2 linked regions of the Homo sapiens genome follow. The protein of the gene in region 1 binds, or shares a complex with, the protein of each later gene. Each region holds a gene or a part of one and is shown in the gene's direction. Other genes may lie near its edges.

Region 1 (3,749 bases):
CATGTTTTTCAAATTTCTTCAACCTGCTACATGTATCTGAAGTATTTTCTGTTTTGGAAACAGCTTTTCAAGCTTTAATTTACTCAACCATTTCAGGAGAAGCTACTGTGTGTCAGGCATCCTTAGGTCCTGGACACACTGTTTAACAAGATGGGCCCTGCCTATGGGAGCCCATAATTTGAAGGGAAAGTCAGATGCTGGACAAGTCATCTCACTGTGAGTGAGCCAGAAAAAACAGCATTGTAGGTCAAAGTGGTGCAAAGATCGTGAGGTAGGAAAAGAGACTAAAGTGGTTCTAGGAAAAATACAGGCAGGGTAAAGGAGGATACAGGTGAGGTGTGGGATCAGATCAGGGAGGGCCTTACGGATTTCTGAGCTGGATCTTTTACCCTTTTATTTAGCCAAAGAGGTCATGTAGTTATTTTACTAATTTGCATTCAGATTGTTCTGGCTTTTAGAAACTACAAACATTTCTATGATTAGTATTCTTGAAATGATCTTGTTGTAAGTTTGTGAGTACATCTGGAGGGAAACTTTGAGAAGGATTGCTGAGTTCAAGGGCTTGTGTGATTAAGTTTTAAAATTATAAAATGTGGTGCATCCGTGCTAATAATTACCATTCAGCCATTGAGGAAAATGAGGTAGATTTATGCATATTGATGAAGAATGAAGACCACAATATCCTGTGTTACAGGAAAGAGATATTGCTAAGTGGCCCTTCAAAATAGTGTAAATTGTTAAATCCGTCTACAGTGGATGAAGATGTCTGCTTCCTCCAGGTTCACTATCAATGTTTTAAAACTCTAATCTTTATCAGAAAAGAAATATTTCATTGTTTTAAATTTGTTGTGTGTATGGTGAACATATTTGATTATTGGCCACTTACAGTTTTTCTTTTTTTATTAACTTCCGGTTTGTGTTTTTCTTTGATTAAAGAGCTCTTTGTAGATAAAATTAGCTCCCCTTATATTGCAAACTTCTTTCCTCTGGAGTCTTCTGTCTATGGTTTCCTTTACAATTCAGTGGTTTTAAGTTAAATAGTCACATATCATTCAATTCCTTTTTGACTTCTGGGTTTTACCAGGCTTGTAAAAGAGCAGACTAATTCTTGAGTACTTAGGCTTTAGAGAACTTTCACACCTACGGACAAAGATAAGGAAAACCATGATTTTCTAATCTTTTGAGAAAACAGCTCCTTGAAGAAAATTCAGTGTTAAATCCTACTTTTGTTACTGTACAGAAAAATCACTTTTTAAAAATAATTGCTAAGAAGTAAGGTACTTGGATTTTAAGAATGAATGTTACCTAACACAATGGTTCTCCATTTTTTTTTGTTTTGTTTTAAAGACCCTTTTACACTCTTAGAAATTATTGAAGACCACTTTTGCTTGTGTGATCTGCTCTTTTCTGTATTAGAAATTAAGACTGAGAAACTTAAGATATTTATTCACTAAGTAATCACATTACATTAATGTAAATTTTTTTTTAACATAAAATATTTTTTGTTCTGGAAAAGTTTGGAGAAGAATGGCATGGTTTATATTTTTGAAAATTTGCTTTATTTGGCTTAATACAAGACAACTGGATTCTTATCAAATTCTATATTCACTCTTACATCTGTTAAAATATACGAAGAAAACCTGGCTTCACACAGATACGTTTTTAATAGTCTTTTCAGATAAGTGTGGATAGGTTTTTTTGCCACTACACTAAAACCCACAAGTGGCTGTTTCTGAATATAAAATTGCAATGTGGAATCTGAAACCGTATCAATGAGCATTTTGTATCTTGACAGTAAAATCCATTGGTCTATTTTGCACTTGGAATGTATCTTATATTCTTGCATCTATCTTGCATTGACCATTCAGAAATACTGGTTCACTGAGATATGTAGATACCCACATGTTGAGATGCTTTATTATACAATATCAAAAGCACATTAATACCACAACTGATCTCATCAGAAAAGTCTAAGCACCTGTCAAGCTAATGACTGCAGATAAGTTTTCCAAAATTCCTTTTTTTGGCCAGATGCAGTGGCTCACGCCTGTAATCCCAGCACTTTGGGAGGCAAGGCGGGCGGATCACCTGAGGTCACGAGTTCAAGACCAGCCTGGCCAACATGGTGAAACCCCGTCTGTACTAAAAATACAAAAATTATCCGGGTGTGGTGGGCGCACCTGTAATCCCAGCTGCTTGGGAGACTGAGGCAGGAGAATCGCTTGAACCCAGGAGGCAGAGGTTGCAGTGAACGGAGATTGTGCCACTGCACTGCAGCCTAGGTGAAAGAGTGAGACTCTGTCTCAAAAAAAAAATATTCATTTTTTAATTTTTGACAAAATTTTAACGTTTTATATTCTGCCATTGGCAACAAAGGCTGTCAGTTTTCCTTGAGGTGATAGACTTCTTTCATTCCTTTAAGAAAAAGTGTGACAAGCACCCAGGTCTGAGTGACCATGGGATTTCTTGCAGTTGTTAATTCAAGTAAAAACAGTATTCCAGGAAAATGTTCTCTAGTTTTAGCTTGCAACTCATATAGTTGCACAAATCCTTTTAATCGTATTTTGGTGTACAGTGGAAGTGCTTTATGGCATACTTCTCATTTTATCACACAGAACATTAAAAAGACATCTCAAGGATGGAGAGCTAATAAAATTAATACTTTCTACTGCATATGGTGAAGTGACAGTAAGTGAAACTGGCATTTTTAAACTACAAGCGAAGAAGGATGCAGAACAGAGAGACTGCTAATATGGTTTACTGTCACTGCCTTGATTTGTGTTGAGGCACCAGCAGCTTTCTCCACCGCTGCCTTGGTACCATCATTACAAATGTCAACCCAGTGGAAAAAGGTGTGAATATTGTCTTGAAAATAGTTTTGACCTCATGGACCCCCTCAAAGGGTCTCAGACCACAAGGGATCTACAGCCCACACTAAGAACTGCTGCCCTGACAAAAACGCTTTCTCTCTGTAACAGACTTTGAGAGTTTTGACCTGCCTGAAGAGCACCAGATTGCGCACCTCCCCTTGAGTGGAGTGCCTCTCATGATCCTTGACGAGGAGAGAGAGCTTGAAAAGCTGTTTCAGCTGGGCCCCCCTTCACCTGTGAAGATGCCCTCTCCACCATGGGAATCCAGTAAGTGAGCAAGTGCCCTTCTGGAAGGGCTGCAAACAATTTGTTTCATAACACTTCCATTACCATGGGAAGAGTTGTGCGGGAGGTGAGCCTGTGAGTAATTTCTGTCCTTCAAATGACAAGGATTAGTTTTCAGAAAAATAAACTATTCTCGATTAATATTGCTTTTCAGTCCCAAATGCCCCAGTAAAATTGTTATTCTGGAAACTGGATAGTCTTACTACAGCCAAAAGATTAATTCTCACTTACATCTTCTTAGGCTATAAGTTGAAGCATATATAATAAACTTGCTTGGAATGATGATTCCATGTTATATCCAAAGCTAATATAAGATCAAAACACCTGTGCTGTAGCATAGACTGACAATAACTTCTTACTGCAGAAGGTCTGAGGTCTTCGTTTGAACTGGTAGTCAAAGCCAACATTATGTTTTCTGTTTGTTCTGATGTGGGATAATTTGTCCTAATAAGTTACATTAGTGAGACTGTTAACTCTTACTTTGGTCTCTAAGAACAATAGAGATTCAGATACTTCTAAAACTTACTTCCTAATGAAAGTCAATTCTGGGGCCACAGACACATTCCAAAAAATGTGTCAGGAGGGGATGCAGGT
Region 2 (3,749 bases), on another chromosome or scaffold:
GTGTTTTTTTTTTTTTTTTTTTGAGACAAGGTCTTGCTCTGTCACCTAGGCTGGAGTGCACTGGCACAATCACGGCTCAACACAGTCTCAACCTCCCAGGCTCAAGCGATCCTCCCACCTCAGCCCCGCAACGAGCTCACCTTGCAGGTTCAAGCGACTCTCCTGCCTCAGCCTCCCAAGTAGCTGGGACTGCAGGCGCGCACCACTATGCCTGGCTAATTTTTGTATTTTTTGTAGAGATGATGTCTGGCCATATTGTCCAGGCTGGTCTTGAACTCCTGGACTCGAGTGATCTGCCCACCTTGGCTTCCCTGAAACCCTGTCTCTACTAAAAATAGAAAACTAGCCAGGCAAGGTGGTGCATGCCTGTAATCCCAGCTACTTGGTAGGCTGAGGCAGGAGAGTCGCTTGAACCTGCAAGGTGGAGGTTGCAGTGAGCCAAGATTGCACCACTGCACTCCAGCCTGGGCAAGAGGGCACTCCAGCCTGGGCAACAAGAGCGAAACTCCATCTCAAAAAAAAAGGAGAATTCTTCCCACAGAGTACTGAAGACTGACTTTATTTTCTCCCAGTCATCTATGTTGATGGCCAAGAAGCTGCATAAATAAGTTATTATCATTTATTCAGCAAATATTTGTTGCCGGGCGCAGTGGCTCACGCCTGTAATCCCAGCACTTTGGGAGGCCGAGGCGGGCGGATAACGAGGTCAGGAGATCGAGACCATCCTGGCTAACAGTGAAACCCCGTCTCTACTAAAAATACAAAAAATTAGCCGGGCGTGGTGGCAGGCGCCTGTACTCCCAGCTACTCAGGAGGCTGAGGCAGGAGAATGGTGTGAACCCGGGAGGTGGAGCTTGCAGTGAGCCAAGATCGTGCCACTGCTCTCCAGTCTGAGCGACAGAGCAAGACTCTGTCTCAAAAAAAAAAAAAAAAAATTTGTTGAGTACTCACTGTGTGCAACGCACTATTTGGAGTACTTGGATGTGTCGGTAAGCAAAACAAAGTTTCCTTCCCTCATGGAGCCACGTTCTAGTTTGGGGGGAAAAGATAAACAGATTCAGTAAATAAGTGAATTATCAACATATTAGAACGTGATAAGAAATGTGGGGGAAAGGAAAAGTAGAGCAGGATAAGAAAGGGAATTGGGAGTCTAAGGTGCATGACGGGGGGCAAGTTACCACCTTAAATCAGGTGGTCAGGGTAGACCTCATTGAGAGGGTGACATGAGCAAAGGCTTGGAGGATGTGAGGGAGTCAGCCATGTGGGTTCCTGGAAAAGAACATCCCTGGCAGAAGAAACAGCCAGTGCTGAGGCAGGAGGGGGTCTCGTTTGTAAAATGAGTGCAGATGGGCTGAGTGGTGTGAAGGGCATGGGCCTATTTGGGGCAGGAAGGGGAGAGCCGCCCCTTCCCCATTCCTAGCAGTAGGGGTTCCTGTCTGATCTGGAAGCTGCTGAACTGACCACAGATCCAGCTGATCTCTGCTGCCTCTCCAGGAGGAGAGGGTGGTGGGAGCCTTTCCTATGGTCAATTGTGCCTTTTCTCCCCTGCAGCTTCTTACACCAGTAATTTGGCCTACAGCTTCTATAGTCACAAGCTCTATGCCGAGGCCTGTGCCATCTCTGAGCCGCTCTGTCAGCACCTGGGTTTGGTGAAGCCAGGCACTTATCCCGAGGTGCCTCCTGAGAAGGTACAAGGGAATGAGAGATGCAGGAAAGGAGCTTATGTGGTTGGGGAGCGGGGGGAGCGGGGAAGGGCCTCACCAGCACCCTGCCTTGGAGTGGGAGGTTAATAGCAGCATGTTGACACCAGTATCTGGAGCAGTGTTTCCCAAACCTCACTGTACTGTTACTTACTGTTGACTCATTTTTTTTTTTTTTTTTTTTTGAGACGAGTCTCGCTCTGTCGCCCAGGCTGGAGTGCAGTGGCACAATCTTGGCTCACTGCAACCTTTGCCTCAGCAAAGGTTCAAGCAATTCTCCTGCCTCAGCCTCCCAAGTAGCTGGGATTACAGGTGCCCACCACCACGCCCAGCTAATTTTTGTATTTTTTGTAGAGACGGGGTTTCACCATTTTGGTTGGCCAGGCTGGTCTCAAACTCCAGACCTCAGGTGATCCGCCTGCCTCAGCCTCCCAAAGTGCTGGGATTACAGGTGTGAGCCACCGCAGCCGGCCTGACTCACTTTTTATATTTAGCCTGGTCCTAAGCTACTGGTTTCCAGCCAAGCTGCACATTAGAATCACCTGAGTGACCTTTAAGAAAATTCTAATGTCTGCCCCGAGTTAATTGCATCAGAATCTCTAGTGTTTGCCGGGCGTGATGGCTCACGCCTATAATTCCAGCACTTTGGGAGGCTGAGGCAGGTGGATCACCTGAGGTCTGGAGTTTGAGACCAGCCTGTCCAACATGGTGAAACCCCGTCTCTACTGAAAATACAAACATTAGCCAGGCGTGGTGGCATGTGCCTGTAATCCCAGCTACTTTGGAGGCTGAGGCAGGAGAATTGCCTGAACCCAGGAGGTGGAGTTTGCAGTGAGCCGAGATTGTGCTACTGTACTCCAGCCTGGGCTACAGAGCAAGACTCCATCTCACATCTGAATATTTTCAAAGATCCCCCAGGTGGTCCTTTGAGCAAGGAGAGTGAGAACCTGGGTTCTTGGTTTTTTGGTTTTTTTTTTTTTTTTTTTTTTTTTTTTTTGGAGACTGAGTCTTGCTCTTGCTTTGTCACCCAGGCTGGAGTGCAGTGGCACGATCTCGGCTCACTGCAACCTCCACCTCCTGGGTTCAAGCAATTCTCTGCCTCAGCCTCCTGAGTAGCTGGGATTATAGGCATGCGCCACCATGCCTGGCTAATTTTTGTATTTTTAGTAGAGACGGGGGTTTCATCATCTTGGCCGGGCTGGTCTTGAACTCCTGACCTCATGATCCACCCGCCTCGGCCTCCCAAAGTGCTGGGATTACCGGCGCAAGCCACCGCGCTGGGCAAGAACCAGTGTTCTTAAGCAAGAATACCTGTGAACTGATGCATTGGCGGGATTGGCAAGCAAGATGAGTCATAGAGGGGCTTGGGTTTCATCTTAACTGAGATGATAAGCCTCTAAAGGATTTAAGTGGAGGCATGACAGCAGACAGGCATTTTGGATTTCCCTGACTTCGCTGTGATGAATGGAGTGCAGGAGAAAAGACCGGGTAATCAGGCTGCTATAGTATTCTAGGCAGGGAAGGGTGGGCTGAACTGAAGCAGCTGCACGAGGGATGGAATGCAGTGGATCGGTGCGAGAAGCCAAGGATTAACCTGGTAGGTGACTGGCGGGAGGGAGAGCGAGAGAAGGGAACATCAGAGATGGCCCCACATTTCTTACTCAGGAGAAGGCAGTGCCATTTGCTGAGAAGGATTACAGGAGAAGCAGGTTTTCAAGGGTGTGGATGATGAACATAGGGGTGGAGTGGATTGCAGCCTCTGAGTTGAAGGCACTCAGAGTATTTCATTCTTAGGTGTCTCCTGCCTTGGGTGGGTGTGGCTCAGGAGGCCCACCTGCCAACCCCGCCCCCTCATGTGGTGTATGTACCTATTGCATGCATATCCCCTTCCACCATACACACTCACTGGTTCCTCTCCAGTTTGGTCTGTTCCCTTTCTCTGGTCAGTTGCACAGGTGCTTCCGGCTACAAGTAGAGAGTTTGAAGAAACTGGGTAAACAGGCCCAGGGCTGCAAGATGGTGATTTTGTGGCTGGCAGCCCTGCAACCC

Evidence for each region. The genes of interacting proteins can lie anywhere in the genome.
Region 2: the proteins of PTTG1 (region 1) and ESPL1 are in contact, whole or in part, in a cryo-EM structure (PDB 7NJ1), measured with the Homo sapiens proteins. Residues at the interface, in NP_001269311.1 of Homo sapiens: Tyr111, Pro112, Glu113, Ile114, Glu115, Lys116, Phe117, Phe118, Pro119, Phe120, Asn121, Pro122, Leu123, Phe125, Glu126, Ser127, Phe128, Asp129, Leu130, Pro131, Glu132, Glu133, His134, Gln135, Ile136, Ala137, His138, Leu139, Pro140, Leu141; in NP_036423.4 of Homo sapiens: His402, Thr405, Val406, Tyr409, Ser461 (codon at 1,563), Asn462 (codon at 1,566), Tyr465 (codon at 1,575), Tyr468 (codon at 1,584), Arg505 (codon at 3,654), Arg508 (codon at 3,663), Glu512 (codon at 3,675), Glu544, Thr547, Phe548, Arg551, Gln590, Lys593, Ala594, Val595, Arg596, Thr599, Gly600, Arg603, Gln634, Cys637, Tyr638, Trp683, Ile686, Glu690, Ile697.

What each region holds. Positions count from the first base shown.
Region 1 is NC_000005.10:160,424,737-160,428,485, forward strand, and holds part of PTTG1 (securin), read left to right. Parts: intron 1-2,978; coding exon 2,979-3,137; intron 3,138-3,749. UniProt on the Homo sapiens protein: Regulatory protein, which plays a central role in chromosome stability, in the p53/TP53 pathway, and DNA repair. Probably acts by blocking the action of key proteins.
Region 2 is NC_000012.12:53,271,170-53,274,918, forward strand, and holds part of ESPL1 (separin), read left to right. Parts: intron 1-1,551; coding exon 1,552-1,688; intron 1,689-3,647; coding exon 3,648-3,749. UniProt on the Homo sapiens protein: Caspase-like protease, which plays a central role in the chromosome segregation by cleaving the SCC1/RAD21 subunit of the cohesin complex at the onset of anaphase. During most of the cell cycle, it is inactivated by different mechanisms.